Linked DNA regions of Homo sapiens. The protein of the gene in region 2 purifies or fractionates together with the protein of the main gene of each other region. This does not show direct contact. Each region holds a gene or a part of one and is shown on either strand. Other genes may lie near its edges.

Evidence for each region.
Region 1: the proteins of IL1A (region 2) and BPTF purify together in Homo sapiens (affinity purification with mass spectrometry; one large-scale study listed by BioGRID and IntAct). This does not show direct contact.

The regions. Positions count from the first base shown.
Region 1 is NC_000017.11:67,828,247-67,832,067, reverse strand, and holds part of BPTF (nucleosome-remodeling factor subunit BPTF), read right to left. Parts: intron 1-3,821. UniProt on the Homo sapiens protein: Regulatory subunit of the ATP-dependent NURF-1 and NURF-5 ISWI chromatin remodeling complexes, which form ordered nucleosome arrays on chromatin and facilitate access to DNA during DNA-templated processes such as DNA replication, transcription, and repair.
Region 2 is NC_000002.12:112,774,296-112,778,116, forward strand, and holds part of IL1A (interleukin-1 alpha precursor), read right to left. Parts: intron 3,817-3,821; coding exon 3,692-3,816; intron 973-3,691; coding exon 772-972; 3' UTR 1-771. UniProt on the Homo sapiens protein: Cytokine constitutively present intracellularly in nearly all resting non-hematopoietic cells that plays an important role in inflammation and bridges the innate and adaptive immune systems.

The DNA.
Region 1 (3,821 bases), on a different chromosome or scaffold from region 2:
AAATACAAAAATTAGACGGGCGTGGTGGCAGGCGCCTGTAGTCCCCTACTCGGGAGGCTGAGGCAGGAGAATCGCTTGAACCCAGGAGGTGGAGGTTGCAGTGAACCGAGATTATGCCACTGCACTCCAGCCTGGGTGACAGAGTGAGACTCTGTCTCATAAATAAATAAATAAAATTAGAATAATCAGTGTCAGCATTAAGCTAGTGCTGAGATCATAACCACCGTAAGCAGGCACTCAAAGAGAAGGAAGACCAAGGTGCAAAACAGGACTCAGGGAAGATCTCCCAGGAAGAGGGATTCCAGCCTGGCTAAGGAGCAGGAAGGGAAAAGGGCATCAGCTAGGATTTGCTCCTGTGTCACCCAGAATACTACTTGCCCACCATGACTACCAGTCTCTCACCCCCATGTCTCCACCATTAAGGGTCTTTAGTCAAAGGGAAGACACAGGGTCTTGAGGAAAGAGGAAAGGAGGACCTAACAGAAGAGACCAGAGTTCCTGGTCTTAACATCCCCAGTCCTGTGATACGCATGTTTCAATACAAACTTCCAAACACGCCCGTGGGTGAGCAGAATAGAAAAGCACGAACTGTGTGCAAGACTATTTATTAATGCATACCTAGGACACACCTCTCTACTACTCACAAATCATATTGCCCAACTTTTTCATAACCCTTTTGGCTCTCATTTTGTTTAATTCTCATGTTTAACCTCTTGAGGTGCTGATAACTGAAAACAGATGTCATTAATTTCCCTTATAATCTTGACCTCCCCATTGTTACTGAAAGTGCTACCATTCTTAGGGAGGCATATGTAATGCATTCCTCTCTCTACACATCTATGTGTCAAGGCCTGAAGAACTCTAAAGTGCCTCCTGGACTGATCTTCCATCCAGGGCTACAAAACCCACCAGCTATCTCGTCCTTGTCAATCCATCCTGCAGAAGAGAATCTAAGCTATACTTCGTGGCATCCCTCTGAAATCATACCCCACTCTTTCAAGATCTTCCGATCATCCCAATACCCAAAATTAAACAGATGTGAAAGAGAGAGAGCTTCAGGCCATTTCCCCAGTAATTCTCTCAATTTGGGAGAAACAGCTACACCAGTGGTTCAACAGCATCTCTGTGATTTGATATGGTTCTGTTTCATGTTTGTGCATGGTGCTGCTGGGAATACAACATAACTCCTCTGGGTGTTCAGGAGTGAAAAAGGGCTGAGGATCACAATCCAGCCCAATCCCTATTCTACAGAAAAGGGGGAAAGTACAGTTGCTATAGCCTGATCCTCTAGGTACTGCCCAACACAGCATACAAAGGAGCTTTGGTTTATTTCCTATTCACACACTCAGGCTCTTGCTAAACCGAGTTACTTGAGACTGCCCACACTTTACTATCAGTGCCTGCTGCTCCCTCCCGCTCCCGCTCCCTCTCCCTCCCTCCCTCCCTCAATCTGCCTTTCCTTACTCTCCACATGCCCATCCAGGAAGTGTATGCCCACATCAATCCCCTTAAATGGGGTATATTATCTCGCCCTCCTTAAAATGCCCACTGCACTGCGTACCTCGCATGCAGCAATCAGAAATTATACTGAAAAGATATTGACACTGATAGGAATAATATTGTCAAACCAGTGACAAATTCTGCTTGAATTTGAATCTATGGTTCATTCATGGCATCTCTGCCACTGATCTCCAATGTCACAATCCTTAGAGGACATAAATCACTAACTCTCCCAGGGTAACACCAGGGTTTTTGTTTCATGAAGTTATCAGAGGTTCCAAGTTTTAAAATTCCAGGTAAGTATTCTCAGAAGTCTCACACAAGACTGAGACTGCAACACAAGAACCATTCTGTTTTAAATATAATTTCTTAAAATTAGCAAATGCTTAATTTCAAAGTGCTGTCAGAACCTTACCAAATGCCTATTGAAAACACTTCCTATACAATCCTTCTCAGTATATTGGCAATGTCATAAAACCTATAGGCTGAAGTAAGTCTAAATTTAAAAAGTAAAAATGAATTAAAGCATTATTCAGCGATATGCCTTTAGCTTAAGCAAAACTAGGTGATTTCAATTTTATACTAAAAAGTTGGCATCCTTACATTTTTTCCATAAAAGGAAAACAATCTTCAATGAATAAACCTTTCATGACTTTAGTAATGTCAACTAATGTCTTTGCATTGTTACATTACCTACAAAATACTGAGTTATTTCTTGTATTAGGAGTGAGCTATTTCTTATGTTAGGAATGTCACGTCAGTACTTAAACCAACCCTGTAAACTATAAAAATTAATCAAATTACTCTAAATTACCAATAAGGTAAATTCCTCTTTCAGCCTTCACAGTACAACAGGATTCAAACTCATCAATCATACTTCTTTATGTGTTATTCGGATATCTTAAACCAGTTCTAAAACTTTTTTTCTTCTATCTACACATTTACCTGACAGCCTTCCTCCAGGAAGTACAGACTAAAAAACCAATGAAACTGGTACTTAGCCTAATCAACTCACTGTCATGCATTGTTACTCATTCCAGGCAAGTGGGCATGTTCTAAAAGTTTAGAACTCAAAATGTCACATCCGGGGGGTGGGGGGCAAGGGGAGGGAACTTAGAGGGCCGGTCGGTAAGTGCAGCAAGCCACCATGGCACACGTATACCTATGCAACAAACCTGCACGTTCTGCACATGTATCCCGTTTTTTTTTAGAAGAGATAAGGAAAAAAAAAAGTCACATCTATTTTACCATAATCTTTAAAAATAATGTGTTGCAAAAGGTAAAGCATCCAAATTAACATCACAGCCAATAAAGGAAAATGCCTGGCAAGCAATATGAAATAGCAACTCAAAAACAAAGTAACTCTTGCAATGAAAAACGTTCACAGAAAAAAAAAAAAACATTCACTGATCAAATTGTCCATCAAAAACCAATTAGAAAAAACAACAACAACAAAAAACAAAAACAAAAAACAATTAGACCAATTTTTAGTTTCCTAAATCCAAAGTATTTAGAGATTATGACACCCACTGTAGAGTTATCAAAACTTCATCTATTACAAGTTCTTATCTACTAACAATAATTTATCCAACCAATCTTTGATGAGCACCTGCTATGTGCAAAACTCTGTTACAGGAGCTGCAGGGGGAATAAGCTCAATACTTATCTCTAAGGAGTTAATAATTTCATATAAGGATAAGACAAGTAGACACAAGTGTCATTAAGAAAAACAAAATGTCAGACCAGGCACGGTAGCTCATGCCTGTAATCCCAGCACTTTGGGAGGCTGAGGCAGGTGGATCAACTGAGGTCGGGAGTTCAAGACCAGCCTGACCAACACGGAGAAACCCCGTCATTACTAAAAATACAAAATTAGCTGGGCGTGGTGCTGCATGCCTTTAATCCCAGCTACTTGGGAGGCTGAGGCAGGAGAATTGCTTGAACCCAGGAGGTGGAGGTTGCAGTGAGCCAAGATTGTGCCATTGCACTCCAGCCTGGGCAGCAAGAGCAAAACTCCTTCTCAAAAAAAGAAAAACAAAATGTCACAAAAGTATCAAAAGTAAACACATTTTTCTTAAAGGACACCTAGCTACAAATTGTAATTTAAGTCAGCATATGCACACCCATCAATCTTAAATATTATTTGCTATGCCTTCGAATAGGACTTAAAGTTAGCTGAACTGTCCTGCCAAAATGTCTCAGCTCTTTTTAACCAGAAAAAACTTCCTCCAGGGGTGTATGCAATTCAGTCTCCGTGTTTCAATTACCGGCTCTGGGTGCAAAGAAGACCAACATGTGATTTCTTAAGGTAAAAATTATTA
Region 2 (3,821 bases):
CAAAATGCCCTGTATTAATGAAATCAAACTTACTTATCCCAGAAAACACTGTCTGCTATTGTGGAGGATGCCTGGTCACACTCAGAGGATGAAGGGGTTCCCATAAATATAGTATATTATAATTATCTTAAATATATTTATAAATACATATATAAATAATAATTAAAAAATAACATTTCGTGCTTTGCCTTCATCTTGAGGCTCGGCTTCAAGAAGTATTTTACCAAAATGACCTCCCTGATTAGCATAAAAAACTGTTGCGGCAGGAAGGCTTAGGTATTATTCCCTCCATTTTGAAAATGATAAAACTGAGGTCCCAGAAACTTATGCTATTTGATTAAGAGTTCATCAGCAACTTAAAAGTAGAAGGCAAACAGTTGAAATGAAATCATGAAATCCTAGGTCTGTGGCTTCTTGTTTCAACTGCTATTGTGCATATTTCTTAGTTTTCTTATGCCTTAATTTGCCCATCTGTAATATGGGTAGAGTCTTTTTGGTAGCCATAGTCAGTAGCTCTGGTCCTCCTAAAATTGTTATGAAGAATAATAATTAAAATGATTGGTACTATGCAAAATATAGGGTGTTCTTTAAATAACAACATTATATGTTAGTGTTGGTTCCACTCTTACAAAGAGTGTAAACATTCATTTAGAATTACAAGGCTCAGTACATGCTCAGCAAATGACTAACAGTAAAGGATTTAGCTTCTTCATGTACATGGTACATATGAACTGTCAACACTGCACAAGTGAGACAAGTGAGACTCCAGACCTACGCCTGGTTTTCCAGTATCTGAAAGTCAGTGATAGAGGGTGGCCCCCCTGCCAAGCACACCCAGTAGTCTTGCTTTGTGGCAATAAACAAGTTTGGATGGGCAACTGATGTGAAATAGTTCTTAGTGCCGTGAGTTTCCCAGAAGAAGAGGAGGTTGGTCTCACTACCTGTGATGGTTTTGGGTATCTCAGGCATCTCCTATGAAGAAAAGAAGAGAATTCTGTTAGAGAACAAGATGGTAGAAAAAGGACTGAAGCTCAATCCCTTAGCATTTGGCCTTCATGAGAAACAGCACTTTAGGACTATGGCTGTAACATGATGCTATAGGCTCTTCATTCATTTGTTCATTCAGCAAGCATTTATTACATGCCTAGTAGATGTGTGGCCCAGTCTATTAATAAGAGTTGATTTCCTTAGTTGATTGGAGAGAGATCTAAATTAGTTATGAAGATTGTCAGTGACACTAGTATCTTACTGTATCCAGGCAGGTAGGAGGGAAACATTGTTTCTGTCCTGCCTTCAACATAGGCCTAAGACATTTTGCATCAAATCTGAGCACTACAGTGATTCTAAGCCCCCTAAACATTTTGATCTCCAAGTGAACAAATCATACCTTTGGAAATCAATTTAGCATTTAGATGACATTTATCTCAGTATTTAAGTCAACAATTGAAGGTTAAACACACGCACACACATACACACACACACATACACACAAAATTCCTAAGTATATCAGTAAACTCTTTCAATATACTCTTTAGAATGTACTTTTCTTGTGAGTATGAGTAGAATTTAACAATACTTTTATGGAAAAATAGATTTCAAATTCCAAGTTGAGATGCTTCTTTCCTATTCTTTTAAATCTAAAGCAAGTAAATATACTTTTGAGGCTTCCTTGGGGTTTCCAATGTCAGCAGGATTTATTTCCCAAACCTATTCCTCTCCTACTTTTTCCCTTCTCAGTAAATGTTGTTTCTCCTCTTCCTTCTGTTGGTTCTATCTCCAAAATATAACCCAATTCTGTCTGTTTCTTTCCACTTCTTTTCCTTACCCCACCCCCATGACTGCTGTGAAACCTCCTCATTGGACTTTCTGCTTCTCTATTGCCTTCCTTCTGATCTGTTTTCTATTTTAGGAAATATAAGTGAGGTCAGGCCATTGCACTGTGTGAAACCCATTAATGGGTTTTCATTGTACCTCAAATGAAATCCAAATGCAAGCTCTGCAAGCACTAGTCTCTGCATATTTTTCCTCCTTCTCAAAATGCCCCAGTTCCAAGAATGCTTCTTCTGATCCTTGGAGCTGTCCTTTACCATCTTGAAGTTGTAGGCCTGGGTGCATTCAGACTCCTCTGAATGTCCCAAAAACCCACAACCATGACCCGCCCCCTCCTCTGAATGTCCTACCCAAAAACCCACAACCACGACCCGCCCCCTCCTCTGAATGTCCTACCCAAAAACCCACAACCACGACCCGCCCCCTCCTCTGAATGTCCTACCCAAAAACCCACAACCACGACCCGCCCCCTCCTCTGAATGTCCTACCCAAAAACCCACAACCACGACCCGCCCCCTCCTCTGAATGTCCTACCCAAAAACCCACAACCACGACCCGCCCCCTCCTCTGAATGTCCTACCCAAAAACCCACAACCACGACCCGCCCCCTCCTCTGAATGTCCTACCCAAAAACCCACAACCACGACCCGCCCCCTCCTCTGAATGTCCTACCCAAAAACCCACAACCACGACCCGCCCCCTCCTCTGAATGTCCTACCCAAAAACCCACAACCACGACCCGCCCCCTCCTCTGAATGTCCTACCCAAAAACCCACAACCACGACCCGCCCCCTCCTCTGAATGTCCTACCCAAAAACCCACAACCACGACCCGCCCCCTCCTCTGAATGTCCTACCCAAAAACCCACAACCATGACCCGCCCCCTCCTGTCGGCAGCTCTCATCTCACAAGGGGCTTTGTTTTTACCACTTTGTCTAAATAGCACTCTCCCACTTTTCTCTATCTTAGCACCCTATTCATTTTTTTTTTTTTTTGCAGCATCTTGCTCTTTTGTTGGTTGTTTGGGTTGTCTGTTTTCCATATCCTCCAGAAGACTAAGTTCTATGAGACTAGAGGCTTTGATGCACCACTGTCCACACTGCTGTTGGCACTATGCCTGAAAAATAGAAGGCTCTCAGTGAATAATGCTTGTTGAATGAGTTCATGAATGAAGCTACTGCCCTACTCTGTAGACATCACTTGATCCAGGTAGAAAAGCACAGGCAGGCACATAAATTCTACTTGGGAATAGAAGGTCTTGGATTATATACTTACAAATTGAGTCACCTACTTATCAGTGGAGAAAACATCTAAGGCTGTTGTGTGTGTGTGTGTTTGAGGGGGAAAGTGGTAGTGGAGACAGGACTGGGACGAAGGATAATGCTGACATCAATGCAGAGAGAGGGGAACTGGAAGCAGCAGGCCCCATTTTGGGACTTGGCTCCCAGCTTGTTGCTTTGTGCCCATTGGCAGGTGATTAATCCTCTCTGATCTCAGTTGGCTTATTTGAGTTTCTTGGAGGCAGGCCACATTGTCCTAATGTCTAGTATTGTGTAGGTCAGATAATAGATGTCAGTAAAGATCAATGGAATAAATGGATGCTCTGGGATGGGAGGTGAATAAGGTCAGGCAGGGAAAGGAAAAAGAAAGAAGGTAATTTTCCTCTTACTCTCTGTTATATTTTCTCATAGAGCCTGCCTAGGCACGCCTCTGGAATCAATGGGAGTGGGGTGGGCAGGTGGGGGCTGTGGTAGGAAGGAAAGAGGACAGTGTCACCTTGTTAGAGGTGTCTGCCTATTGGGCTTATTTACAAACATATGAGATGTAAATGAAGGTAAGTTGGAGACAAAGGACAACTGACCTTCAGCAGCACTGGTTGGTCTTCATCTTGGGCAGTCACATACAATTGAGTTTTTGAGATTCTTAGAATCACGGTAATTTTAGCATCATCCTTTGATGACTTATAAGCACCCATGTCAAATTTCACTGGT